Homo sapiens: one gene and its partners. The protein of the gene in region 3 purifies or fractionates together with the protein of the main gene of each other region. This does not show direct contact. Each region holds a gene or a part of one and is shown on either strand. Other genes may lie near its edges.

Region 1 (7,026 bases), on a different chromosome or scaffold from region 3:
TGAGGCAGGAGAATCAGTTGAACCCGGGAGGTGGAGGTTGCAGTGAGCCAAGATTGTGCCATTGTACTCCAGCCTGGGCAACAAGAGCGAAACTCTGTCTTAAAAAACAAAAAAAAGACTGGAGTGGGGAAAGGTGGTGTAACTTCATGGGTCAGAGTGATCCACATTCCTTAGCTCTCCACAGCCATACATGCCCAATGTGGGTTAGGGGGCAAAAGAAGCTGGGTACTTGCATAGTTGCTGGATCTCCTAATAAGATGAAGAAGCTGTGCCTGTGGTATATCATGCTTTGTATCCTTCTATAATGCTACATAAAGAGTAGATTGCAGCCTATTGAATCTGATTGCCACTTTGAATCTGCAACTAGAGATGTGCTGCTACAAATTTACTTTGTAATTTAAAACTGACTTTCTAAATTGTCAAGTTTCTAAAATTATAGCTAAAGCAACCAATAGTAAGCCCATATGCTCAACAATTTTACCTGGATGTTCTTTTATAATGATCCTCATATAACCAACTAGTCCATATGTCCTACAGATCAAAAGAGGAATCTGGGAATTCCAGAGGACATCTGCTAAGCGTAGTGAAGTGCTGTTTAAAAAAAAAAAGCAAAATATGAACATAAGCAAATGGAAATATGCCAAACATGAAAACATGCAAAACATGAAAATGTCTTACAGCAACTTTCTTACTAAATAATAGATGCAAAGGTACATAACTGCATTTACATAAGCAGGTCAAGAACACACTGAAAAGCAAGCATTTCCACAGGCTGCAGTCTCAAAGAAAGTACATCTTTGGACAAGAGGGATGTGAAACTTTAGTCTGTCATATTAAGGAGAAACGTTAAAGAAAGATAATTCTAAACATTTCCATGATAGAGAAAAAATATAAAACCCACAAATACACCCCTAACAATTCCAATAACCAATTCTCTGTTGCCCAGGCTGGAGTGCAGTGGCATGATCATGGCTCACTGCAGCCTCGACCTCCCAGGCTCAAGTGATTCTCCCATCCCAGCCTCCTGAGTAGCTGGGACCACAAGCAGGCACACCATCTGGCTAAATTTTGTAGTTTTTGTAGACACAAGGTTTTGCCATGTTGCCCAGGTGGTCTTAAACTCCTGTGCTCAAGTGATCTGAACCTGTCTCAGCCTGGTTCTGCTGGAATTACAGGCATGAGTCACTGCACCCAGCCTTCAATAATCAATTCTAACTAGTTTTTAATCACTAAAACAAACAAAGAACAAAAACAACAACAACAAAAAAACAATGTTCGGTTTAACTGCTCTAAATATATTCCAAAAGTTTCACATCTAAGGTTAGGCTTGGTGGCTCCACAACTGTAATCCCAGGACTTTGGGTGGCTGAGGCAGGCAGATGACTTGGGGCCAGGAGTTTGAGATCAGCCTGGCCAACATGGTGAAACCCCGTCTCTACTACAAATACAAAAATTAGCCGGGCACGGTGGCACATGCCTATAATCCCAGCTATTTGGGAGACTGAGGCACGAGAGTTACCTGAACCCAGGAGGCAGAGGTTGCAGTGAGCTAAGATTGTGCCACTGCACTCCAGCCTGAGCAACAGAGCAAGACTCTGTCTAAAGAATAATAATAAAAAAAAAAGTTTCAGTATTTTTCTCTTCCTCATCTTTTCAATGCTGGAAGATTTCTAAGAATTTCTTTTATTTATTTATTTATTTATTTATTTTTTTTTTTTGAGACAGAGTCTAACTCTGTCACAAGGGCTGGAGTGTAGTGGCACGATCTTTGGCTCACTGCAACCTCCACCTCCCTGATTCAAGCGATTCTCTTGTCTCAGCTTCCCGAGTAGCTGGGACTATAGGCGTGAGCCACCACGCCCAGCTAATTTTTGTATTTTTAGTAGAGATGGGATTTCACCATGTTGGCCAGGATGGTCTCAATCTCCTGACCTCGTGATCCACCTGCCTCGGCCTCCCAAAGTGCTGGGATTACAGGCATGAGCCACCGTGCCCAGCCATAAATCTGAAACTCTTGACCAGGCACGTTGGCTCACACCTGTAATCCCAACACTTTGGGAGGCCGAGGAGGGTGCATTGCTTGAGCTCAGGAATTTGAGCTCAAGCTCAAAAAAAAAAAAAAAAAAAAAGTTTCATATTTAAAGTTTCTATAGAATTTAACAATTTTTAAAACCATATCATCATAGACTGTGCAAAGAAAATAAAACAATGCAAATCTAATAAGATTAAAATAAAAACATATTAACATAAAAATTTACCTTTCAGGAAGCTGAGTTGCAACTACAACAGTAAACCTACAGAAAAATGAGGGATCATTGTCTAGAAGGTTTTCTGGACTCTAAACAGGACAGCAAAGAAAAAAACAAACAAAAAAAACCAATTTCACAATCATATTAAACATGGCAGAGACAGTTAAGCTATTTTACAACAAATGAGGCAACAATTCCAATTCAACTAATCATAAATGACACAAAGATTCAAAATTCTAAATTTCTGGGGCTTTGAATTATTTAAAAAATTGTATTTCAGCACAGACATAATAATGTGTGTACATATATACCTCTTCCACAAAACTTCCAGAGACATCGCTATTTAATTCTTGTAAGAATTCCATGGCAGCTTCAGCTCGGTTCTTTTTAAAAACAAAGCATTTAACTTGAATTAGAAAAAACTTGGTCACAATATAATCCCCCAATTTATGGAACAGGCAAACATACTGTAAAACTATCCAAATTTCATGCATAAGTATGACAACTCTGTTTCCCTTCTTTTTTCTTTTTAGAGACAGGCTTTTGCTCTGTTGCCCAGTTTGTAGCATAGTGGCCTGATCATAGCTCACTGCAGCCTTGAACTCCTAGGCTTAAGCAATCTTCCTGCCTCAGCCTCCCAAGTAGGTGGGACTACAGGCATGTGCTACCATGCCCAGCTAATTTTTTAAAAAAATATTTTGTAGAGACAGGGTCTTGACATGTTGCCCAGGCTGGTCTTGAACTCCTGGTCTCAAGCAATCCTCCTGCCTTGACCTCCCAAAGTGCTGAGATTACAGGCGTGAGCCACTGCTCCCAGCCAATTCTGCTTCTCCTAGTGTTTAAGACTCAACAGAATATTACTTAAAACAGAGCAAAACCATCATCATCCAGAGTTCTCAAATGACATTACTTGTACTCTACTTTTTTGATTAGGCAAATGACCAAAAAACTCTGGGTAGCAGGCAGGGATATCCTGGATCAAGTTCAGACTCACTCTAACCACCCACATCTATAATCCTGTACAAGAGTGGTTAATCACTAAGCTAAAAGTCATTTCACTAAGTTGACTAACATGGTTTTGTAAGATTTTTTAGGCTGGGCGTGGTGGCTCATGCCTGTAATCTCAGCACTTTGGGAGGCTGAAGCGGGTGGATCACAAGGTCAGGAGATCGAGACCATCCTGGCTAACACGGTGAAATCCCATCTCTACTAAAAATACAAAAAATTAGCCAGGCGTGGTGGTGGGCGCCTGTAGTCTCAGCTACTCGGAAGACTGAGGGAGGAGAACGGCGTGAACCTGGGAGGTGGAGCTTGCAGTGAGTCGAGATCGCGCCACTGCACTCCAGCCTGGGGGACAGAGCGAGACTCCGTCTCAAAAAAAAAAAATTTGTTAACCAGAATGAATATTAACATTACTCAAGATTTAGCTTTAATACAGGATGCAATGTATAAACACAGACAGTACACCTCTAAGTTCTTAAACTACCAAACATATGAAGATTTACAAGATTACAAAAATTAGTTAACTTTTTTCTCAGAGAAATAATACACGTTTTTAAAGTCAAAGCTTTTCAAGCAATCAAAACACAGGGGCATCATTAGATGCTCACATCCAACTATATTCTCTAATTGTTTACCTTGCCGATACTGCTTCTTTGAAGGAAGAAACTAAAGTGAACAGAATAAAGGAAAAAAAAGTAAAGCTTACTGACTATAAAGGAAAAGTTGTTTGTAATAGCATGCATATTTCATTCACAGTATAAAACAAACTATATTGTGATTACAGACTGTAATGGCCTTCCTGGAGGAAGAAAATCAGATGGAACTTATAAAGAAAGATAGGCTAATAAATCAATGTTTCTTTCCCAAATTGTGTACCACAGCATGTGAATTTCACAAGATCCTCTGAGAGAAAAGGGTTCCTTGGCTAAAAACGTTTGGGAAACACCGGCGGGTGTGGTGGCTCATGCCTGTAATCCCAGCACTTTGGGAGGCCGAGGTGGGCGGATCACGAAGTCAGGAGATCGAGACCATCCTGGCTAATACAGTGAAACCCCGTCTCTATTAAAAATACAAAAAATTAGCCGGGCGTGGTGGCGGGCGCCTGTAGTCCCAGCTACTCGGAAGGCTGAGGTAGGAGAATGGCGTGAACCTGGGAGGCAGAGCTTGCAGTGAGCCGAGATTGCACCACGGCACTCCAGCCTGGGCGACAGAGAAAGACTCCGTCTCAAAAAAAAAAAAAAAAAGTTTGGGAAACACCATATACTATATTTCCCTCTTGGAAATTCATAATACACATAATACATGTGATACTAAAATCTTATGGTAAAGAAATTTTTACTTCATTTGATCCATTTCCCAAACTAATTTCACTATGGAACCCATTGGCCCATTTAACAGCTCTTATCGTTCCCTAGAACCGGTGTTCCACAGACCACTCTCGGTGTATTGAACCATTTGTTTTTGCACGTAACTGTAACAGATTTATTCAGGCTTCCTCCCACACATACCCTTGACATGTCTCAAGGCCCAGATATGAGGCTGCTGATCAGAGTCAGGATGCCACTTTTCGGTATAAGCTCACTGGCTCCATAAGAAGAAACCTTATTTTTATCACTTTCTACTCTAACCCACCAAGTAAGCAAAGATAACAAGACTTCTTGGTATATATCAATAAAAAAGCTGTGCTGTGCCTGGCAGAAACTGGCACTACGATCCAAAGAAAAGGCATCAAAACTAAATATGAACTAATTGCTGGTTTCCCTTATATTTACTCACTGTTGTTGTTACTGACAAACACAATGAGAGATACCAGACTTCAAGTCCCTGAAAAGGTGAGCTTTAAATCCAAATTTGGGCATGTTCTGAAAGTCTAAATATAATCTTTAAAGAATAATATACAGGCCATCTTTAAAACAGCATTTTTGTTGACACTGTAAAGAGAGATACCCCTAGACTAAGCCTAAAAGACATCACAAACAACAGGCATTATTGTTAATTATATGCTAACACCTACGGATCAATACAAGAGCTTAGGAAGTGCCCATATTCCATGAATAAAGGAATAACGACTACTCCTTTGTATTAATAACAATAAAGACAGTAATGATGGGTAACATTTATTAATGCCCTATTTGCCAGATGCTGTACTAGCACTTTACCTATATTATCTCACTTCCTCACCATAATCCCAAACATAAGGATGATTTCCACTGAGAGTCGAGTCACCCTGACTGAGGAGGTGAAGCTAAGACTCAGGCCTTGCCTTCCTTAACGTGAATATATTTGAAGAGAATAGAACATACTTGTTTCCAGCATCTTCTCCGCTGACCTGATTTCCATCAATAATTGTAAACGAACCAATACCTGAGAGCCAAAACAGAGTCAGTCAGGAATACATAGTTCTAGGTCATAAACTTAAAGAAGTATATTTAGAACACAACCACAAACCTACGTTACCTGGTAGTACCAAGTTTTTAAGAATTTCAGTTCCTGTGGCTGTTGCATTTATTAGGCAAACATGAGCAGATTCTAAAGCCTCTTGCCCATGATCACCCCACAACCTACAAAACAGACACAAATTTGATGTTTTTAAAACTTTCATGAAAATACAGCTTTCTTATTTGAATGGTGATCTTTAAACTTTCCTTGCATAGACTGATATGATAACCACAGAATACAGGTAAGACGGGAACAGATATTAGTATAGTGATTATACAGTAATCTAGAACTCAGGTTGATGCCTTGAATGGTTAGGGGAAAAGAGGGAGAGGGTCAAATTAGAAACAGAAACTTGGTCTTCCAGCCCCTTATCAGCCTGGGCACAAGAGCGACACTCTGTCTCAAAACAAACAAACAAACATTTAAAAAGCGTCTTTGGATTTAAACCCTCATCTGTTTTCTATTTCATTTATTCTTTGTTTTGTTTTGAGACAGAGTCTTGCTCTGTCACCCAGGCTGGAGTGTAGTGGCATGATCTCAGCTCACTTGGCCTCCCAAAATGCTGGGATTACAGGTGTGAGCCACCGTGCCCAGCCCTATTTCATTTATTCTTAAATTATGTTAGATGTGCCAGGTGCAGTGGCTCACACCTGTAATCCCAACACTTTGGGAGGCCAAGGCAGGCGGATCACGAGGTCAGGAGATCGAGACCATCGTGACTAACATGGTGAAACCCTGTCTCTACTAAAAAATACAAAAAATTAGCTGGGCGTGGTGGCAGGCGCCTGTAGTCCCACCTACTCGGAGGCTGAGGCAGAAGAATGGCGTGAACCCAGGAGGCGGAGCTTGAAGTGAGCCGAGATTGCGCCACTGCACTCCAGCCTGGGCGACAGAGCGAGACTCCGTCTCAAAAAAAAAAAAAATTATATTAGATGCATTTAAGTTAAGTTAGATGCATTTAAGATCTCGACATAGGGCTTATTACTGTGACTTCTGCAAAAGCTTTACCAAGAAAACTGAATTATCATCTGAAAAGCCTCACATCAACTTCTACAGGAGTGCTTTAAAGTATATTACCCAATGAACATTCTAATAGAGTGATTAATGTGCCTTCCCTGTTACCTGATTTAAAGCAGATTACCCCTTATTATGTAGTCAGTATGTCCTCCAGAGCATGTCAAGCAACTGCCTTGTTTTTTGTTTTTGTTTTTGATACAGGGTCTTACTATGTTATCCAGACTGGTCTTGAACTCCTGGGTTCAAGCATTTCTCTCGCCTCAGCCTCTAGAGTTGCTGGGACTACAGGCACAAGCCACTGTACCTGGCTTCATTTGTT
Region 2 (7,026 bases), on a different chromosome or scaffold from region 3:
TATGAACAATAAAATAAAAATCAGGTTGTTTTATAATCATGCATATTTCCTATAAAAAAATTTTTATGCTTTAAAGCCTGCTTTTCATAATAGACCATTTCTTGTAAATTACTTCGCTATAGAGTTATTTCAGGCTATAAAGCAAAAGATATATAATAAGTAGAGTTCTGGAAGTTAGAAAATGTATGGGTGACTTTGTTCAAATTTCTAACCAATAATATTTAAAAATCAAAATATGCATGATCAAAAATGTGTTCTTAATACTACTAACCTTTCTTTCTGCTTCAAATGTGTATGTATACAGCCCATCTACATCATTAAACACCAAGTAATTATTCAAGGGAATGTATGCACTGTAATGAAAAAATGTTCATCTTTATATAATTAAACCAAGTCAAAACATAAATTTACATGCATATTAAAAATGAAACCTATTACCTTGTGGCTATTTTAAAAACCTCAGTGGCACACACAGCTGAAGGGAGGAGAAAATACAGGTGCTTTAACTCAATGGAAATTAGGCATGTTAAAAGTCAGTTATAAATCAGAACAGATAAATTTACATTGGCTCTTCATTAAAAAATACATATTCCAATTTTTAAAAACTGAGACAGTAACAAATTTTACATTGTTTTGTGTGATTCATGTAATAGAGTAACACTACATGTTTTTCTTGTTTATCAGATTAATAAATGGCCTGCTTCATATGGAACTAAAACGTCTCTTTACTGCAGGTAACTTAAGACATAATGTAAGACAAAAAATATGCAAAGTCTAATAACTGGTTCTTTTTCGACAGCTTAGTTACACAACCCATCCAAGAAGATATCAAATTCCTACAACACAAAAAAGCTGCAGCAACGTCAAAAACTAAAGAAAGCAAAATAAACTAAGTGATGGCCTTTTCTTCCTCACCTGCAATGACTGCATTTGTGGAAGCTACTGCAGGAATGATTCTTTTTACTACCCCTGAAAAAACATATCAATTAAAATATGGTCATTTCTTTAAAATAAAAGAGTTCTCTTAAATTAGAAGGCATGATTATTAAATACCATTTTCTAAAACTTGATTTTTCAGACTTTCAAGCCAGAAAATAAATTTAACCATGAAACAATCTTTCACATCCCCATCACTTTGTAGTAAATTCAGAATCTTAAGCTACAGTAGCAAAGAAAACTCTCTCAAGTAAGTGCTATAGAAAGGTGAAACAATAACATCATAATAGTTAACAATTTAGAGTATTATGTTCCAGGCACAATGTAAAGACTAAATATTATTTAATTTTCACAACATCTTCATGTTAATTACTCTGATTTTAAACATAAGAAAAGTGAGACTGAGAGAAATTTAGTAATTTATCCACAGCTATATACTTAGCAAGAGGTGGGGTTGGCATATGAACACAGATATTAACTGATACACCATGAAGAATAAGTGTTATCTAATTATTCCTGTAACAGCTTCAGTCACTTGATTCACAAACATTCAAAAAAAAGAAAAGCTGCCCTTTATTATCTTTTACTCTACAACCGAGGCTACACAAAATATTAAATACAGTTCTCTACTTCAACCCCACATTTTTCTTTTTTTTTTTTTTTTTTTGAGACAGAGTCTCGCTCTGTCGCCCAGGCTGGAGTGCAGTGTCGTGATCTGATCTCGGCTCACTGCAAGCTCCGCCTTCTGGGTTCACGCCATTCTCCTGCCTCAGCCTCCCAAGTAGCTGGGACTACAGGGGCCCGCCACCACGCCTGGCTAATTTTTTGTATTTTTAGTAGAGATGGGGTTTCACCGTGTTAGCCACGATGGTCTCGATATCCTGACCTTGTGATCCGCCCGCCCTGGCCTCCCAAAGTGCTGGGACTCACATTTTTCACATCAGTATTATTCACATATTAGGAATAAACAAAGCCTCACCTTAAACCATTTTTTAAAAGTACAAAATAAATACTCCATTTTATAACTATATTTGAATTGTTCATTTTAGAAGACAAAAACTTCAAGAAAAAGTAGCCATTTTATCTCACAGTGTGAGGAAACACTGTAAGATGTGTTCCCAAGACTCCAAGTATAGTCAGGTTTCAAAAACTTAAGGAAAAACAGCAAGTAGCTAAGAAGACATGAAAGAAAGACAGTTACGAAGGCTGGAAAGCTTTTTTAAAAAGTTGACTGTGACCATATGATTCTCTATAGTTTTGGAGAAGAGGAAATTTAAAAAGAGATAAACTGCATGATGGTTAAACTGGAAGCTCTCCACTGAACCACATGTAGCAGGATGTACTGAAAGGAGGAAGTGGTAGACACAAACAGTGAAGCGTGTAAGAGACACTGCCCAGTAAGAACATTGCCAAAATGATGAGGACTCCCCTCTTTCTCCAACCCCTGCCACCCATACCCCTGCCCTTCGACCAAAAAAAGCTAGAGTGGGCAGAAAGGCAACTTTCTGTTATACTGAGAACAAGGGGAAAAATCATAGAATAGATAGAACCACTGGCTTGTGCAACTTCACTTCCAATTCTCCTTCTGTACTCCTTGTTGAGGCCCTCATTCACCAGCCTAGAAAGTACACACCAAGCCCTGGTAAAAGGTAAAGAAGGATGGATGAGACTACATATTAAAATGGGGAGTTTACAGTTTCTGGTTAGAACACACTGAATTCGTTTGTTAATTCTAACAATTAGCAAATATGTGTAACACATGCTCCAGACACTGTTCTAGGTGTTGTGCATAGTAACAATGAAAAAAAGTATCTGCTCGTATAGTGATTTCATTTTGATAGGGGAGATAACACAAAAGTAAATACTTGGAACACCTCAGATATTGAAGAGTTCTATGAAGAAAATGAGGTATGTGTTAGACTGAGAATGATGGATGCAGTCCATTAGAGAGAATGGTCAGGGAAGGCCTCCTTGGAGAGGTGATAACTTGAGCTGAAACCTAAGCCATGAGAGAGATCCAGCCATGCAATTACCTGAAGAAAAAGCTGTTTGTAAACAGCAATGGCAATGGTCCTGGTCCTGGGGCAAGGATGTAAGATAGTTTAAGTGTGAAATATTCTTTGCATAGGAGAATGAGGCTACCATTAATCAGTTCTGAGCAATTACCAAAAAAAATAGAATGGTGAATGGCTCAGAAGTCATTTTAGGTTGAATGATTAGGAAAACTGGTTAAGCAGACACCTAAGAGATGAGGAGCCAGCCTGAGGGGATCCAAGGAAACACCATCCCCGGCGTAGGAACTCGGGAGTATTAAAGCTCTAAGGTACAGAAGAACTTGGTGTGTTCAAGGAACACAAAGCAGGTCCGTGTAGGGAGAATGCAGAGGGCAACAAGGAGTAAGTATAAATGGAATTTTAAAATGACATTACTAGATCAGTAAATGTAAGGAAATAATCACAGGAGAGAAATGGCAGATTTTCAAAAAGAAGACAAAGCTCATTCTGGTGAACCTGGTAATGATCTTGGGCAAAATTCTAAAAAAGGAAACTATAACTAGATTGGAAACATTGATCACTATGATTGAGCATGACTGGTTACTAGACAAATCATGTTGGAGTAGCCTCATTTGGCTACTATGACTAACTTAGCAACTCAGGAAAATGCAAAAGATAGCATACCTAGGCTTCAGTAGAGGATCTGGAAAGGTTTTTCATGACATCCTTGTGAACAAGATAAAGAAATACAAAGTACCAAGAAGGTCTGATGAACAGAATGAGATAAACCTAAAAGGGCCTGGCCAGAAGTATGATTCAGATGTCTGTTCTCAGAGAGTTCAGTCTTATTAAAAATTTTCATCAATTATTTGAAAAAGAAATAAAGGATATAATTATCAAAACAGGTGAAATGAAGCTAGAAACACCAGGTAAGTTGGCAGAATACATATAAAGAGAGAAAAACAGGTTGAATTTTAAGAATACATTTGTAAGGACCTATACTTGGATATTAAGAAAAACAAAAAAAAAAAGACACTCCCCAAACTGCCAAGTTTATAATAGGCAGATGTGGCTTAGCAATTGCATATGTGGACAAAACATCCAGCTTTCAGTGGCTAGTAACATCAAAGAATCCAAAGTATAGCATCAATGTAAACAAAAAAACAACAACATAAATACCTGCTCTCCTTTAAGACTGCATCAGTTATCAGAAGTCTATTATCTAAAGTTAAGACCAGTCCCATAATGCTGCATGTTGGCCTGAACAATTAGGAAAAGTTGTTTTCTCTAACTATATTCCAGTTAACCAATATGGATAGCTGGAATATGGTTACAGAAAAACAACATGAGAACCTGAAGCTGTACAACATATCAAAGGGTTGGATATAGTTTGGATATCTGTCCCCTCCAAATCTCATACTGAAATGTGATCCCCAGTGTTGGAGGTGAGGCCTAGTGGGAGGTGTTTGGACCGTTAGGGCAGATCCCACATGCATGGCTTGGTGCCCTCCCTGTGATATTAAGTTCACGCAAGAGCTGGTTATTAAAAGAAGCCTGGTATTCCCTCCTCTCTCTCTTGCTCCCTCTCGTCATATGACATGCCTTGCCATCCCCCTTAGCTTTCACGAGTAAAAGCTTCCTGAGGTCTCACCAGAAGCCAAGCAGATGCTTTTGCCATGCTCACACAGCCTGCAGAACCATGAGCCAAATAAACCTCTTTCCTGAATAAATTACCCAGTTTCAGATATTCCTTTATAGCAAAGCAAAATGAACTAATACAGGGTTAAAGGAACTAACTAGGGAGGTTTATGGCACTGATAAAAATTTGCAAAGGATGTGATCACTGTCCTCAATATGTTAAAAGCTATTACTTAAAAGGGAATTAGACTGTATACAGTACTGGGACAACAGTCAGACCAAACTGAAGACGATTTCTATTTTGAGACGAAGTTTTGCTCTTGTTGCCCAGGCTGGAAAGCAGTGGCGCAATCTCAGGCTCACTGCAACCTCAGCCTCCTGGGTTCAAGTGATTCTCCTGCCTCAGCTTCCTGAGTAGCTGGGATTACAGGCATGTGCCACCACACCCAGCTAATTTTGTATTTTTAGTAGAGACAGGGTGTTGCCATGTTGGTCAGACTGCTCTCGAACTCCTGACCTCAGGTGATCCGCCTGCCTCGGCCTCCCGAAGTGCTAGGATTGCAGGTATAAGCCACCGCAGCTGACCTGAAGACAATTTCTGTTCAATATATAGAATATTTGTCTAACAGTCCTGTCCAAATGTGAAATAGACTGTCTCTAAGAGATGATGAATTCAGTGGAAGATAAAATGGACAGTTTGACTTGGATGACTTATAGCCTAAGTAAGTAAGATTCAATAATTTTATTAAATTCCCCCTAGCTAATAAGTAGTATGAATTACATGGTACCTTTACTGAACTTCAAGTGGATGGTACTGTCTAAACTCACTTATCGATTATTCTCCTGAAAGCATCCCAGCCCTAAGTCATCCCAACATCATAATTCATGACAATTTGCTGACTTACCTTGAGTGAGCCTATACGTAACACCCCTAATATTATATTGTGATGCTCTCTCTAGGGATTTTTGGAAAATCCATTGTATATGTTCAGGATCATCTCCATCTAATGGAACCCCTTCTGTTTAAAAAAAAAAAGGGAGAGAGAGAGAGAGAGAAGACAGGAATACGTAATCACAAAACAATGTTTTTAATGAAATTATCCAAAGGAATAATATAGAAAAAATATGTATTTTATGTAATTCTAGATTATTAAATTAGGTTTATTACCTCCAAAAGGCTGCTCCTTAGGCCACTGCAACATCCTTACATACTCAATACAGTGTTCTGGTAGCCTGGGCATAGATGCAATGGTGCACATGGGAAAATTAACCTAAAACCACAGTTTGTCCTTTTCAGTGAATTTTAAACGAATTATTTTAAAATGCAACTTCCAGTTATGATCTAGTTCTTAACAATTTCATACAATTTGTTTCAACTCAAAATATTGTATACCATTAAAAATGCCTCTCAAACTATAATACAGATTAACTGAGTCACTTCACTTAGGCTGCACTGCCTGTAAAGACAGGTTTGCCCTACATTTACAAGGTATAAAATTTAAGCTTTGTTAGACTATGAGAAGAAAAATACTGAACAGATTTTCTCAAATATGAACACCTTGTTATTTTTACCTAATATTTAAGTATAAAGCAAACCAAAACAAAAGCAAGTTCAGAGTTAAGTGAATCCCAAGTGAATACTCATAAAATTGTTTACATTTATTATTCAAAATTTCAAGTGTTCTTTAAAGTGGATATGTAAACCAAAAAGCCCCATCCTTGGAAAGATCATTCTTATCCCTGGTATCTTTATTTCCCTGAAATAAATACAGGTGAAAACCACATAGATTACAGCTTGACATCAATATACAACTTTGTAATTCTACTTGATACCTACTCCCCAAATAAAAAATACAAATAAATTATGAAAGCAGAATAGTATCAAAACAATGTACTCGGTTCATATCTTTCCTCAAATAGAGCAGAATTTCATATTTTATCTTTCTTCTTAGTGTAATTTTTAAAATACGGCCACTTCTAATTAACAATCCTAAATATTAACTAGACTTAATAATTAATCCCTAATTCCATGCCAAGATACTATAAAAGAAATGCAGGTGCTTTTTTGATTACCTGTGGTGGATAAAGTTCCAGCGTGCATTCGATACAAGCAGTCATTCCAGGCAGAATCACCCGGGCATTTCCTTTAAAACCTTCTGTCCCCCCATCTATCAAAGGGACAATGGAGCTTGGATCTAAGACACCATCTTCATAATTTAGAAGAGATATCTAGGAAAACAATTTGAAGGGCTTTAAAGGAGAAGGGGATAAGAATTCAAAAGAAGAAGTATGCTTTCAAGTAATCCTATGAGTCGGTTGTGCTATTGAATACCAATGTATCAAATCAAGGGATTATAATAACAATTTGTGTCTTCACCTGAAAACCAATGACTGGCAATAAACAATGAAGTAAATATACTTAATTAAAAATTAAACTCTGATTTTTCAAAAATATATC
Region 3 (7,026 bases):
TTTACTCTTAAAAATGGAAATACAGGAATTTTAAAGTAAAAAGAAAAGGTCTGTTCTAAAAGTTCTTTCACAAATATATATATTTAAATATTAAAATAGGCTACCTAGGATTTTTATAAAATGGCTTTTGAAAAGATAGTAGAGGCACAAAGAAGCCATATACTATCCTCCAAGTTGGACATAAGGTGCCACAAGGCTGCCCTACAAAGAGGCAGGCAATCTCTACCTGATGCAACGGGAGGCACCAGTAAACAACAGAAACATTAAATACATTATTGGGAACTTGGACCAAAACCAAATTTTACTCTATTAGGGACCGTTGCTTTTTTAAAAAATACCTTGAGATATAAGCATTAGAAGTCATCACTTTGTACAAGGAAGAAAATGAATACAGTTTATGATCTTACTCCTTCCAAATACCTGATGTCACTCATTTCAGGTACCTGAAAGATGAAAAGCAGTGCAACTTTCAACAATTTAATGGACTACTCTCATTATGAGAGACTTTACACAGCATCTGTCAACTTGAAAATTAAATTGGTAACTGAAATAAAAAATCGCCTAGAGAAAACACACATAAGCTAATCCTAGAAAAGGCTCTCCTTAGAAAGCAGGTGTTTCTAAGAACTGCAGGAAAGGCTTCCCATCTTGAACACAGCTTCCACTAATACCAAGGGAAACGTGCATTAAGAGGAGAGATGACAGGGCTCCCTTAAAGCAGGAAGATTTATCCTTCCTCAGCAGGTGATGTACTTTGGTAACCTCAACATTCATTTATGGGATGATTTTTCATCTGTTTTATTGAATAATGAAATCTAAATGTGGCTAGATTGGCATTTGGGAAAACAAGGGCCTTTTAATAAAAGTCCTGACACTGGAGCTCCTCCCACCACTAGGCACCAATTTTATCAGTATATCGCCACAACCGTGCCTGGGACTTTAAGCTTCATCAGCAACATCAGTCAATTTAAACGAGAAAGGAACTAATAAAAGAATTTGACTTTATAAACCAGGTACTTTGAACAAAAACTAAAAATTTTAAAGTTAAAAAAAGTTTTGTTTTTAATCCGCAGTCCTTACTCTTAAGTTCTCTGTAAACTATTATGCACACAGAAACCTTGGTATTAGCTGAAGCCGGCCTGGGTCTTGCACAGTGGGGGTTTACTTAAGTAAAAGTAGCACAAACATTTCAAAGACAATCTCAATTTTTCAGATACTGCCAAACCGAGATACCAATAACATCTGAAATCTTTGCAGAGACTATTTATAAAAACATGGAAGTGTTTTTATTTTCCCATCATAAAAATATAATCACGATAGAGTGGAAATGTCTAACTGTATTAGTTTAGTAAAAAGTTAAAAAAAAGTATGACCACTGATGGTACTGGTACTACAAGTCTTCATCCCATAACTGACACAGGCTTAACCCCCCATAAATATTACAACATCTCAACTTATCTATCGTCTAAAATGAAACATCCAGAGAGCGACTGTTCTTAGTTGAGCCTGGGATTGAATCAATTCCACTTTATTGTTTAATCTGAACCATTATTGCTTTTGGCTAATTCATCTTGCTGAGGACTTTCCAAATAAAAATACTCTGTCACCATACTGTCAAGCAAAAACGACAATGAAAGATAAAAATGGGTATAGGCAAAATAAGGAACAACTTAATTTAAATGTTCATAGTTTGAGTTTAAAGCCTGTGGGAGTATGCTTAGTTTTAATATTCCTCATAGACATGTTTGCCACAACAGAGCTTCCTTGTTACCCCAATTTTGTTTCACTGCTTCAGAAAAGAAAATTTAGCTTTTATACATTCATCTCTCAATAACTTTCAAAATCTAAATATATTACAAATAAAGCATCTTACGTCAATAACTTACTTACAGTGAAAACTACATTTATTTATTACCTTCTGGCAACTTTGGGTCTGTTTCTTCTAACTGTAAACTTCACACTAGTTTTTTTTTCCCAGTTAGTATTAATATTTAGAAAATTTTTAATTCTCATTCACTTGGATGTGTATTTCAGAATTACAGCTTCATACTTTGCAGATGACTGAAACAAAGTAACATATGAAAGTTTCTAATTCTTTTGTTCATTCCACAAATCTCAAACTTCAGCTAAAATATTAAAATTTTAGGATTATTCATTCAAGTAATAAGTCTCTGTTACAGAATTGCCACATTATACAGTAATGTATTTTTCAAGGACTATTAAAGCTAAAAGGGACTAAAACATAATCTGAGAATCTTCAAGAATAAAAGCTGATAAAATAGATAACTGGCCTCTATTTAGATTAAGAGAAAAAATTAGAAATAAAAGACTGAAAGATTTAATACAGCTTCCAAAGGCTCCCAAGAGAACCATTTATAAACTGGGAGAGTCTCCTGAACCAGCCTATTAGTTAGAAGGTAACTGAGTTACCAATAATTATGGACATCAGATGTATTGACTAGTCTATTTCATTTGGCAAAGTATTTTAACAAGATGAAAGTTTTTTTTTTTTTTTTTTTTTGCTAGTTATTAAGAACAAAGGGCATGTGTCGTAACAGGGGATCTAATTACTGTAAGCCAGAATGATTGCTGAAATGTCAAAATGTAAGATTGAATGAGGCTATTTAAACATTTTAGTATATTTTGTCTTACTGAAATTGATAAAAAAAAAAAACTGGCAATGTAACTAAATGCGTAACTAATTACTTGAAATAAAAAGATTACTTGAAATTCAAATTAAGAAAAATCCATTTAAATATATTTGTGGGTGATAATCTCCATCTGCATCCATTTATATAAAACTTAAAATGCCAAAAAATAAAGACCAATATTAATCTCTTTATTTCTGAATGAGATGAAATCACTGACATGTTTGATGCTTCCACTATTAGAATATACCCTTTAAACACGAAAAGAACAACTGCAGGAGCTTTAACATCCATTATCATGGGTGAACATCTTTGTTTACTTCTAAAGTACATCACACCTATTTGGTAGTTAAAAAACTGAAAATAAAAGCTTGTACAAAATGCTTGGTTTTAAAAAGGCAATTTATTCTGCATTCTGAAATTTAAGCCCTTTAGATACCACAAAGTTACCCTCCTGGCCTTAAGAAAGATAGCTACGTTTAAGCACTCTAAACTGGAATATTTATGTTTAGTTACACTGGTAATTTCTAATGAATGGGATAATATAACTGGCTATCTCTTTGCAATATTTTCAATATGTCCTGGTAAAAATTATGCATCTAGGCATCCCTAAGATGAATTTGAAATAAACCTAAATACTACTATATATACAATTATCCCTTGCAAATCTGTTTCCTAAAACAGATCCATAAACAGATCCAATATCCTTAAAGTACATATATATCAAGAAAAATGTACCCTCACTGAAATAGAAAAAGGCCTTTATTTGTATCATTTTATGTTAAATACTGGTTAGTTACTGGTATTGATAAGATCTGGGCAGCAGACAACTAACCAGATATGCATTTTCACAGTATATTCAGATTTCCCATAAAACTTGGCAATGTGTATTACCAGTGAAAATCTAAAGTTTCTACTTGGGAAGGAATACCCAGTGATGGGTAATCCCTCATTCTGAGAACACAGTCAGAATATCTTGGAGCTACCAACATTGTGCTTGGCTCTTAATGCGAAGTTTTCAGGGTTGGGGATGTGCTAAAAACACTTTTAACCAATCAATCTGCAAACCATTCTTACACGTTTCTCTTCTTTATTCTTCTTTCCTTCTTTTCTTTTTTCTTTCCTCTTGCTCTTTCAAAAACCACCTCTTGGAACTAAGGGTAACAATGATTCCTGGTCATAATTTTACCTATTCTTGTCAATACAGATTTTAAAATTAATTTTGAGATTTATCTATTGCTAGGCCTAACAGTTTTCAAAGACCACAACGTAACATTAAAATTCCTGACCTTTCCAGTTGAGACACAGCAGTACTATATGAAGTATTATAGTCTGCTGCAGAAAGTAATGCAACCCTATCAGTGAAGAAGCATAAATGGTGGGAGCCTATCATAACCTGTATATGCTGATTCTCCTGAAGGGAACACACCTATGTTTGGCAGCAAATGGGTAAAAACAAGTTCATGAGTGAGGTAAAGAGTTGAAAACAAGTTAAGGACTGCAGAATATGGGCAGACACAGAGAATCTTAACCTAAAACAGTTCTAAGGAATTTAATTTACTTTTCCTTTCTTCACATGTTTTTGGGGAAAAAATTACAGAATTAGCCAATCTAAAAAAATGAAACAAATCACTATAATTAAAAATATATACATTTAGTATGGTCTAGCACCTGAACAAAATTCAGATCTTGTGTTTTGACTAAAGAACTGTATTTTCTGTCTATCAAATCAGGTGCTCTCATAATTATTAAACTTTGGGTATCTACACAGAAACTTATTCCAAAGTTCACTGCTCATGGACTTACAAATATTTAGGATCAATATTAGAGATGCTTTAATGGCACCAGATGAAAAGTATACCCAAGTCTAGAGGATCATACAAATTTCAACTACAGACCAGAAAGTTTCATATTTTTAGCAGCAGAAATAATATTCATTAGTTTAAGGTTTTCAGTTTCTCATTAGTCTTAATAATTTTTTTCTCCCAGATTTATGAGTCATAGATGAAAATCTTACAGTCTATACTCTTCATTGTTGCCTACGTTGTGTAAAAACTATAGTTAACTGTTTTTAATAACTTTGCAATGTCTAAAAATAAATATGTAAGGACAATGTATCGCTGTCATATGGGATTCAGTAAACAATCTAGTTGGGTTAAGAATGCAGCCTTGGCCGGTGCAGTGATCCCAGCAGTCTGGGAGGCCAAAGGAGGAGGATCACTTGGTCTAGGAGTTCAAGACCAGCCTGGGCACCATAGTGAGACCTCATCTCTACAAAAAATAAAAATGAAGTTAACCAGGTGTGGTGGAGCATGCCTATAATCCTAGATACTCAAGAGGCTGAGGCAGGAGAATGGCCTGAGCCCAGGAGTTCGAAGCTGCAGTGAGCTATGACTTAGCCACTATACTCCAGCCTGGGCAACAGAGTGAGATGCCATTCTTTTAAAAAAAAAGAAAAAAAAAAAGAATGTAGCCTCAATAGAGAATTATTTATTATGTCCAAAAGAGCACAATGAAAACATCCCCAACAACACATAAACCTATATATAAAATATAGAATATCTCCAGTATTTTTACTTTATATGGCAGCACGCCAATATATGCAAGAGAACATATTGATGGGGCAGGGGGAAAACTGATCCGGGCAATGACACAGTCAGGCATTACATTCGGAGACCAGGTAAACAGCAATTTTAATCTGAAAAGCAGTATGAGAAGAGTTCCTATGAAGCTGGGATTTACATACTTCATTCTCCGTTCCTGGTCATTTCATCCACAGCTTGACTGTTGTCAATCATGGTTCCTTGCCTTTGGAGTGGTACTATAAAGGTACAGAGAATGCCCATCTCAGTACCAAAATTTCACCATGAAAAATCATAACAGAAATGACAAAGCTTAAAGAAAAGTACGCCGGATTTCAGAAGTATTTACCATAATAATTTTTAAGAAAGCTTACCATAAATACTTCCAAAAACAACAGGCTTTACAAAATATTATACAACATCCTGTGTACAGCAGTAAGTATCTACTCAGGCCATTTGTCAAGCTGTTTAGTAATTAGTTTCTCATGTACCCTCTTGTCTCAAGAAGGTCAATAATCATCTGATTTCCTCTCTAGCTAATGATCTGTTGTTAGCCTACTTTTAACAATGGAAGAAGGAACTGGTATATGTTTTAAGTCAACCAGTTCTCCTTAAGTCTCATAGTTTCTGTTTCAACATCATGTTATTGTGTACTTACAGAAGCAATCTCTCAGTTAGGAAAAATAAAATCAGTTTCAGGGCTCAGAAAGTAAAAAGGGAAATTCTTTCCCAATCTCCCCCTCCCTCCCACCCGGCTTTTTTTGTTTAAAAAATTAAATTAAATTTAAATGTACAAGACCAAGCACAGGCACTTTCCAAAAAACAAAACTGAAGCCAAATCACAAAACTACTCAATAGTTATAGAAGACAGCTCTGATTTTGGGGGGTCATCTCTGGTTGCCTCAGCACAAGCACTGCTCTTTGGCTGCTCTGGCACTTCTTCCTCTTTTTCTGCCAGCCCACCAAGAGACCCCAAGGGAAAAGTGCTTTCACAATTCTGGGTTGAGGAGACCTGTGAAATGACAGGCATTTGAACAGAGGAGTTGCTTTCAAAACCGTGTTCTCCAAGATCATATTGAACAAGGGTCTCTTCTTGTTCCTGGTTTAAGTAGTCCGGTACTAGGAAATCACTAGATAAGAGGCAAAGGATGAAATATGGAATTAATTTTCAAACCAGTAATAGATAAGCAACAGTAAAAAGCTCTGATTTATACAACAAAATTGGGACTCTTCATTTCACTAATTGTTCAGTGAAGATTAAAACTCAGGAACTTTCAACTTATAAACTTTCCTAAATATGAACCAAAACATCCATTAAAACCAAAATGTATCAATCTTCCCCACCACCAATACATCAGGTTAATTATCACTTTCATTATAACTCTGGACACCTTAACAGCCTTTCTTGTTCTATGTAGAGGAGTTTCTATATACAAAACAAATGTAGCATGCTCACTTAAACAAAGATCATCTGAGTAACTTTAATGCTAAACTTTTCTTGATTATACATTGAGTAAGAGATATATAAACCTAGCTTTGTATTACTAAACTTGACATAGGTTAGTTAAGAAACTAAGTCCTTATGCATAAATGACCTGATACATAATCTACTATAAAGTTGGGAAATGTAGAAAGTAATTTATGTGTATCCTGCTATTACATTTGGTATATGAAAATACTAATAAAGAATTTGGAAATGAATGCCTTGAGATTGGTTATGTGATAATCCTCAAAACGTGTTCAATTATTGGTCCCCACAGGCAACATGGACAGTAAAATATACTAAAAACAGTGGC
Region 4 (6,972 bases), on a different chromosome or scaffold from region 3:
TATATATGGTAAGTGCATTATACCTTAGAAAACCTGGAATCTGAAAAAATCAGAGTGTATGATATGATACAAGAAAAGGCACAATAGCTGTGGACGTAATCAAGGCTAAGGAGTGTGTTCCTAAATATTCTTAAAGAAAAAAAAAGAATAACAGCTGCTCTTTTTTTTTTTTTTTTGAGACGGAGTCTTGCTCTGTCCTCCATGCTTGAGTCCCATGATCTCAGCTCATTGTGACCTCCGCCTCCTGGGTTAAAGCGATTCTCCTGCCTCAGCCTCTGGAGTAGCTGGGATTATAGATGTGCACCACCGCGCTTGGCTAATTTTTGTATTTTTAGTAGAGATGGAGTTTCACCACGTTGGCCAGGCTGTAAACAGCCACTTTTAAAATGACCTTAGGGTCTGGCATGGTGGCTGATGCCTGTAATCTCAGCACTTTGGCTCAGCACCAAGACTGGAGGATTGCTTGAGTCCAGGAGTTTAAGACCAACCTGGGTAACACAGCGAAACCCCGTCTCTACAAAAAATTTAAAAAATTAACCAAGCGTGTTGGCTCACGCCTGTAGTCCCAGCTCCTGGGGAGGCTGAGGTAGGAGGATCACCTGAGCCTGGGAGGCAGAGGTTGCAGTTAGCTGAGATTGTGCCACTGCACTCCAGCCTGGGCAACAGAGGGAGATCCTGTCTCAATAAAAAAGGTAACATGGCCAGACCAGGTGGCTCATGCCTGTAATCCCAGCACTTTGGGAGGCCGAGGCGGGTGGATCATCTGAGGTCAGGAGTTTGAGACCAGCCTGACCAACATGGAGAAACCCCATCTTTACTAAAAATACAAAATTAGCCAAGAGTGGTGGTGCATGCCTGTAATCCCAGCCACTCAGGAAGGCTGAGGCAGGAGAATTGCTTTAACCCGGGAGGCAGAGGTTGCGGTGAGCCGAGATCGCGCCACTGCACTGCAGCCTGGGTGACACAGCGAGACTCTGTCTCAAGAAAAAAAAGGTAACGTAATTTTAGTCACCTCTTGCTCTGTCTGCCTTAAATTAGAATTTAAATACCAAAATTAAGTTGTTTTTTAAAATAATAACTATTTGTTAAATCACATCACACATTAAATCACTTTTTAATTTGTAGCCTCAGAATGTTCAGGTAAATCACATTATCTTAAATTGCTTAGGCAATGGCCATTTTTGTAATTTTAATTTTTTTTTTTTTGAGATGAAGTCTCACTCTGTCGCCCAGGCTGGAGTGCAGTAGCGTGATCTCAGCTCATTGTAACCTCCTCCTCCCGGGTTCAAGCTTGAAGTGTTTGAACCTGGAGGCAGAGGTTGCAGTGAGCTCAGATCGTGCCAGTGCACTACAGAGTGAGACTCCGTCTCAAAAAACAAACAACATGTCATCTAGGTGGTTATGTTCATTTTGTTTTTGCTTGCCTGCATTCTCTTTCTGTACTACACGTACATTATCTGTTAATGTTAATTTAAGTTCAAAGTAAAATTAAGAATTCATATCTTGAGAAAAGAAGTATTTCATTGATAACCGGGGCCTACCAGGCATGTGAAACCATGTATATATATAGATAATTCAACAAAGGAATGTGGTGAGAAAAGAAAGGAACCGATTTAGACCTATCAGCTGTGTTAGGAATTTTGAATAACCTACTAACCCAGGCATGCTATTTAGCTCTTTCTTTTTTTCAGGGGTGGGGCAGGCAGAGTGGGAGCAGTGGAACAATGACAGCTCACTGTCATCTGGGCTTATGTGATCTTCCCACTTCAGCCTCCCAAGTAGCTGAGACTAAAGGTGCATGCCACCACGCCTGGCCAATTTGAAAACTTTTTGTTGAGACAAAATATTGGGTCCCACTATGTTGCCCAGGCTGGTCTCAAACTCCTGGCCTCAAGAAATCTTGCCCCAGCCTCAGCCTCCGCGTAGCTGGGATTACAGGCGTGCGCCACAGCACCCAGCTAATTATAATTGTTTTATTTTTAGTAGAGACAGGGTTTCGCCATATTGGCCAGGCTGGTCTCGAACTCGCTACCTCAGGTGATCCACCCACCTCGGCCTCCCAAAGTGCTGGGATTACAGGCGTGAGCCACGGCGCCTGGCCGAAAATGTTAACTTAATAAATTTTTTTAGGCATATGAATACATATAAATCAATTTGGGTCATACAATGAGTAATCTGATTTTTCGCTTTATAGCTCAAACATCTTTCCATTTCAATAAATACATCATTATTCTTCAAGGCTACATAGTAAGACTGAAATATGATGTTTAAAAATCCCTGTTATTGGGAATACAGAAAAACCGTACTCAATCCTCAACTATGGAAACATTATTGATTTAATCACTGGACTTACGCAAGATGGGTAAGCTGACCCAGGGGACGGGAGTTCTTTTCCCTACAAACATTCCACTTCCTGGCTACTCAGCCTTTCTTGTCACAAAGCCTGTGCAAGGAAGCTATTGGCCCTGCTCCTGGGCCCAGGAATGCTGCCGCTGCCTTGAATAGCTGTGTGAACAGTCCTTCTATGGGCAACAGGCGGCCCGCCTGGGTACCTGAATGTTTTCTGATTTGGGCCTGTGCTGCCCATGCTCACCCTGAAATTCAGACCAGATGCATTCTTATGGCAAAATGACGTGAAACTCTTAAGTAGAAGAGAAAGCCTGCGGTTCTCATTTCAGAGGTGGAATAAAAACAAAATGTCTTCTGGAAACGCTACGCGGCCCTAGACCTCGCTGGAACCAGGAAATGATAGCCAGCTCCCATGCGCGTGGCCTGCTCTGGGACCCACGTGGGCGGGCGCCTTCCTCAGGAATGCGTTCTCAAAGGCCCACCGGTGTAGGGGGGCTGGAAAACAGCACAAACCCAAGTGTTCTCTGCAAAGCAGCAGTCCTGGTGGTGAAATAGGGGTCTTTTCTAAAACTGAGCAAAGCCTACCTTCCACTGAGGAAAAAATGGCCTCCAAGGGAGGGCTCTTTTTCCCCTACAAGTGACATTCAAAGTGGTGCTGTGTCTATCGGAACTAAAATAAGGGCGATTCCTTCTTTCACCATTCCCCACCGCAGTACAAGTGACGGCGGGACTGTGCTTAGTGGCGTCATCTAGTTTCAAGGCGGTCTCCTATCTGACTTTGAGCCCTCGCTCTTTATACCCAGTTACCCTCTCGTGGAGTCCGAGCAGCTGCTTCAGGGAGGCCCGGGAGCCCCTAGGGCGGGCAGCCCCGGAGCCTGCAGCTGCGACGCAGACTCGGAAACTACAACTGCGCGTGAAGCCGACTAAAGTTAACGCCTGTGTGATTGAGTCAGAAGCTCCTTCAGGAACACAGGAGTGGGGCCGACTCCTGGAATCCGGCCCCGGGTCGCTTATAAATGCGCCAAGAAAAAAACGTCACCGAAAAACTTTATACGCGTTCTTGCTTTGGTCCAGAATGGTAAAAAGCCTATCCTTTGAGTGTGTCCCGTGATGGGGTTAACTAGCAACCCTTGAAACTAGTGGAACTCAAAAGCAAAACAAAAAGCCATTGTACCCAGCCGCCCCGGGACCTGGGCCGGCGCCCTTGGGAAGTCTGGCGTGAAAGGAGGGGTGGCTTTGGTTTCAGGGCCGAGCTCGCCTCTCCCGGGTTGGGTTCAGCAGCCGGGCCGGGTGGGTCGTGGGCAACCCCGGGAGGCCCCCGGTCCCGGCGCGCGGCGAGGCCGCCCTCGGACCTGGCACTTGTCACTCGCTGTCCCCGGCCCGGGCGTCAGCGGGGAGACGCAGAAGGGCGGAGGGAGGGAGCCGGCCGCGGACAGCGGTGACTCAGCCTGCGGAGCCGGGGGCGGGCGCCGCGCGGGGGACAGGCGAGCCCGCGCTCGCGGGGGGCGGTGGCGCCCGGCACAGAGGGGTTAAGGGGGCGGTGCAGACGTCTCCCCGCCCATCCCGCCCCTCGAGAGCCGCGGCGCCCCGCCCTATTTATAGCAGCGGTGCCTAGCGCGCCGCGTCTCTCCGCAGGCCCCGGCCGCGGCGTCCTCGACAACCTATCGAAGGCGCCATGGAGCGACCGGCGCCCCTGGCCGTGCTTCCCTTCTCGGACCCCGCGCACGCCCTGAGCCTGCTGCGCGGCCTGAGCCAGCTGCGCGCCGAGCGCAAGTTCCTGGACGTGACCCTGGAGGCGGCGGGCGGGCGCGACTTCCCGGCGCACCGTGCGGTGCTGGCCGCCGCCAGCCCCTACTTCCGCGCCATGTTCGCGGGGCAGCTGCGCGAGAGCCGCGCCGAGCGGGTGCGCCTGCACGGAGTGCCTCCCGACATGCTGCAGCTGCTGCTGGACTTCAGCTACACGGGCCGCGTGGCGGTAAGCGGCGACAACGCTGAGCCGCTGCTGCGCGCCGCCGACCTGCTGCAGTTCCCGGCCGTGAAGGAGGCGTGCGGGGCCTTCCTGCAGCAGCAGCTCGACCTGGCCAACTGCCTGGACATGCAGGACTTCGCTGAGGCCTTCAGCTGCTCGGGACTGGCGAGCGCGGCGCAGCGGTTCATTCTGCGCCACGTGGGCGAGCTGGGCGCCGAGCAGCTGGAGCGGCTGCCACTGGCGCGCCTGCTGCGCTACCTGCGGGACGACGGGCTGTGTGTGCCCAAGGAGGAGGCCGCCTACCAGCTGGCGCTGCGCTGGGTCCGCGCTGACCCGCCGCGCCGCGCCGCGCACTGGCCGCAGCTGCTGGAGGCCGTGCGCCTGCCCTTCGTGCGCCGCTTCTACCTGTTGGCGCACGTCGAGGCCGAGCCGCTGGTGGCGCGCTGCCCACCCTGCCTGCGCCTGCTGCGCGAGGCGCGCGACTTCCAGGCGGCGCGCTACGACCGCCACGACCGCGGGCCCTGTCCCCGAATGCGTCCTCGCCCGTCCACCGGTCTCGCCGAGATCCTCGTGCTCGTGGGCGGCTGCGACCAGGACTGTGACGAGCTGGTCACTGTCGACTGCTACAACCCGCAGACGGGTCAGTGGCGCTACCTGGCCGAGTTCCCAGACCACCTGGGCGGAGGCTACAGCATCGTGGCGCTGGGCAATGACATCTACGTGACGGGTGAGTGGGCCAGGGGCTGGGCAGGCTCTCTGGGGTTGAACCTCGCCGGTACGGGAGCCCAGCTATTCGCGGGGGAAGCGCACAGAGCCTGGAATCCTAGGGGCGCACCTGAGTCCAAGCTGGGGCTCTGGTGACTACATGTCTCTGGGCGATACTTTTAACCTTGAAGAAGGGCCCCTTGTGTGAGCCGGGACAAGTAGCTGCTTGTGGGTCTCTGTGCCCCGTGCGGCCGGGGCTGCCAGGCTGAGCCAACTCCGTGCCCAGGAGGTGCCTCCCCACTTGGTTGGAAGATACTGGGGCATTCACCCCGCACAATGGGTGCTTTCTTTTTCTCCTTAAGGAATCCAGGGACGGGCAGGAGGCCGACGCCCGGTGAGGCATCTGTTCCCCACAAGCCGGGGAATTTCTCCCTCCCTGCTGAGCCACACCGGGCCCCCTGACTCACTCTTTGTCACCCGGTGACAAGGTTCCCTTGGGCTTGCACCTAGGCTCTGTGCTCTGGTCACATGGTGTTTAGGCTGAACTCCCCGGAGCCTGTAAACATGGTCACATGTTAAGAGGTTTTCTTCCAGTTACTTGGCCCAAACCCCAAAACACTGCCGAGTCATGGTAGGCGGGTCCCAGTCCGCCTGAGTTTGGGCTTCTACGGTTTTTATTAAAGATAAATCCCAGTTCAAACACGAGGCTACCTCCTTTGTCGGGGTGAGGAAGGGCGGTCTCTGTGACTGCTATATAAGGAAAGAACCCACCAGGCAGGCGTGTGAGGCGGTTATCAGGCAAGGAGGTGGGGACTGGGATGTCACAGCTGCTGTGCCCAGCCTTGCATGTTCGCGAGAGAGCCCACTCTGGGACGTGCTCCGAGTTCCAGTGGGGCTCTGAGGTGTCAGGTGGGACAGTTGCTGGATTCTGTTGCCACAGCTTCCTTAGCCTGCTGCTCTGAGTCCAGCCTCTGCTGGGTTCTGCCAGAATCTGTGCCTCTTTCCAATCCAAGGTTGTCCCCAAGTTGATTGGGGACCGTGTCCCTCCCCTCTTCTGAAAGTCTGACCAGTGGCTTTGAGCAGATAATTTCTTCCCAGAACTGGCCACACTGGCCCCAGCTTTCTGCACACCCTTCCATAAATGTCCCAGCAGAGCAGTTAATCCCTTGGGTTTAGGCAGGTGGCTGGTTCATTCCTTTCAGCTGCCTTTCACACAGCTCCATGGAAGGGAGGAGGCCGGCAGAGCTCACTTCCTAAGAACAAGAACTTGCTTTTCTCCCTTTAGAGCTCAGGGCTGTGAAACAGAATGTCTTGTCCGCTCTGTCCTGTGGCGCCAGCCTGGGAGGCCAAGGGGTACAGCCCCCAGGATGCTTGGGGTCCCTTCATGTCCTGGGGTTTCTAATAGACCTGGTGTAATTTACGATTACAGCCAGTACCACTTTTTATTCTTAGCTTTTTATTGAAATTGAAAATACGGGCCGGGTGCAGTGGCTCTTTGTAATCCCAGCACTTTGGGATATCAAGGTGGGTGGATCACTTCAGCTCAGGAGTTCGAGACCAGCCTGGACAACATGGCGAAACCCCGTCTGTACAAAAAATACAAAAATTAGCTGGGTGTGGCGGCATGTGCCTGTTGTCCCAGCCACTCAGGAGGCTGAGGTGGGAGGATTGCTTGAGCCCAGGAGGTGGAGGTTGCAGTAAGCTGAGATCATGCCGCTGCACTCCAGTCTGGGTGACAGAGCAAGACTCTGTCTCAAAAATAATAATAATAATACAGGCAGAAGAATATATATATATATATTATACTTACACAGCTTCGTGGATTTTTCTAAACCAAACACAGCTTTGTAACCTGCACCAGAATCGAGAAGTGGCCTCGCAGTGTAGCGTTAGGTCTCTTGCTTAAAGCAGGAAGTGGGTTTCCGCTCATCTTGTCCTGGCAGAACCTT

Evidence for each region.
Region 1: the proteins of ZBTB44 (region 3) and NAE1 purify together in Homo sapiens (affinity purification with mass spectrometry; 2 studies listed by BioGRID and IntAct, with this or other methods). This does not show direct contact.
Region 2: the proteins of ZBTB44 (region 3) and UBA3 purify together in Homo sapiens (affinity purification with mass spectrometry; 2 studies listed by BioGRID and IntAct, with this or other methods). This does not show direct contact.
Region 4: the proteins of ZBTB44 (region 3) and KLHL21 purify together in Homo sapiens (affinity purification with mass spectrometry; 2 studies listed by BioGRID and IntAct, with this or other methods). This does not show direct contact.

Annotation. Positions count from the first base shown.
Region 1 is NC_000016.10:66,820,969-66,827,994, forward strand, and holds part of NAE1 (NEDD8-activating enzyme E1 regulatory subunit), read right to left. Parts: coding exon of another isoform or gene 7,012-7,026; intron 5,813-7,011; coding exon 5,709-5,812; coding exon of another isoform or gene 5,700-5,708; intron 5,616-5,699; coding exon 5,555-5,615; intron 3,918-5,554; coding exon 3,887-3,917; intron 2,633-3,886; coding exon 2,561-2,632; intron 2,339-2,560; coding exon 2,259-2,338; intron 592-2,258; coding exon 482-591; intron 1-481. UniProt on the Homo sapiens protein: Regulatory subunit of the dimeric UBA3-NAE1 E1 enzyme. E1 activates NEDD8 by first adenylating its C-terminal glycine residue with ATP, thereafter linking this residue to the side chain of the catalytic cysteine, yielding a NEDD8-UBA3 thioester and free AMP.
Region 2 is NC_000003.12:69,056,341-69,063,366, forward strand, and holds part of UBA3 (NEDD8-activating enzyme E1 catalytic subunit), read right to left. Parts: intron 6,798-7,026; coding exon 6,642-6,797; intron 5,840-6,641; coding exon 5,737-5,839; intron 5,588-5,736; coding exon 5,474-5,587; intron 970-5,473; coding exon 916-969; intron 476-915; coding exon 439-475; intron 354-438; coding exon 272-353; intron 1-271. UniProt on the Homo sapiens protein: Catalytic subunit of the dimeric UBA3-NAE1 E1 enzyme. E1 activates NEDD8 by first adenylating its C-terminal glycine residue with ATP, thereafter linking this residue to the side chain of the catalytic cysteine, yielding a NEDD8-UBA3 thioester and free AMP.
Region 3 is NC_000011.10:130,227,914-130,234,939, forward strand, and holds part of ZBTB44 (zinc finger and BTB domain-containing protein 44), read right to left. Parts: intron 6,361-7,026; coding exon 6,243-6,360; coding exon of another isoform or gene 6,078-6,242; exon of another isoform or gene 5,470-6,077; coding exon 5,443-5,469; coding exon of another isoform or gene 5,396-5,442; 3' UTR 5,395-5,395; exon of another isoform or gene 3,803-5,394; 3' UTR 1-3,802. UniProt on the Homo sapiens protein: May be involved in transcriptional regulation.
Region 4 is NC_000001.11:6,599,870-6,606,841, reverse strand, and holds the start of KLHL21 (kelch-like protein 21), read left to right. Parts: upstream 1-3,972; 5' UTR 3,973-4,024; coding exon 4,025-5,045; intron 5,046-6,972. UniProt on the Homo sapiens protein: Substrate-specific adapter of a BCR (BTB-CUL3-RBX1) E3 ubiquitin-protein ligase complex required for efficient chromosome alignment and cytokinesis.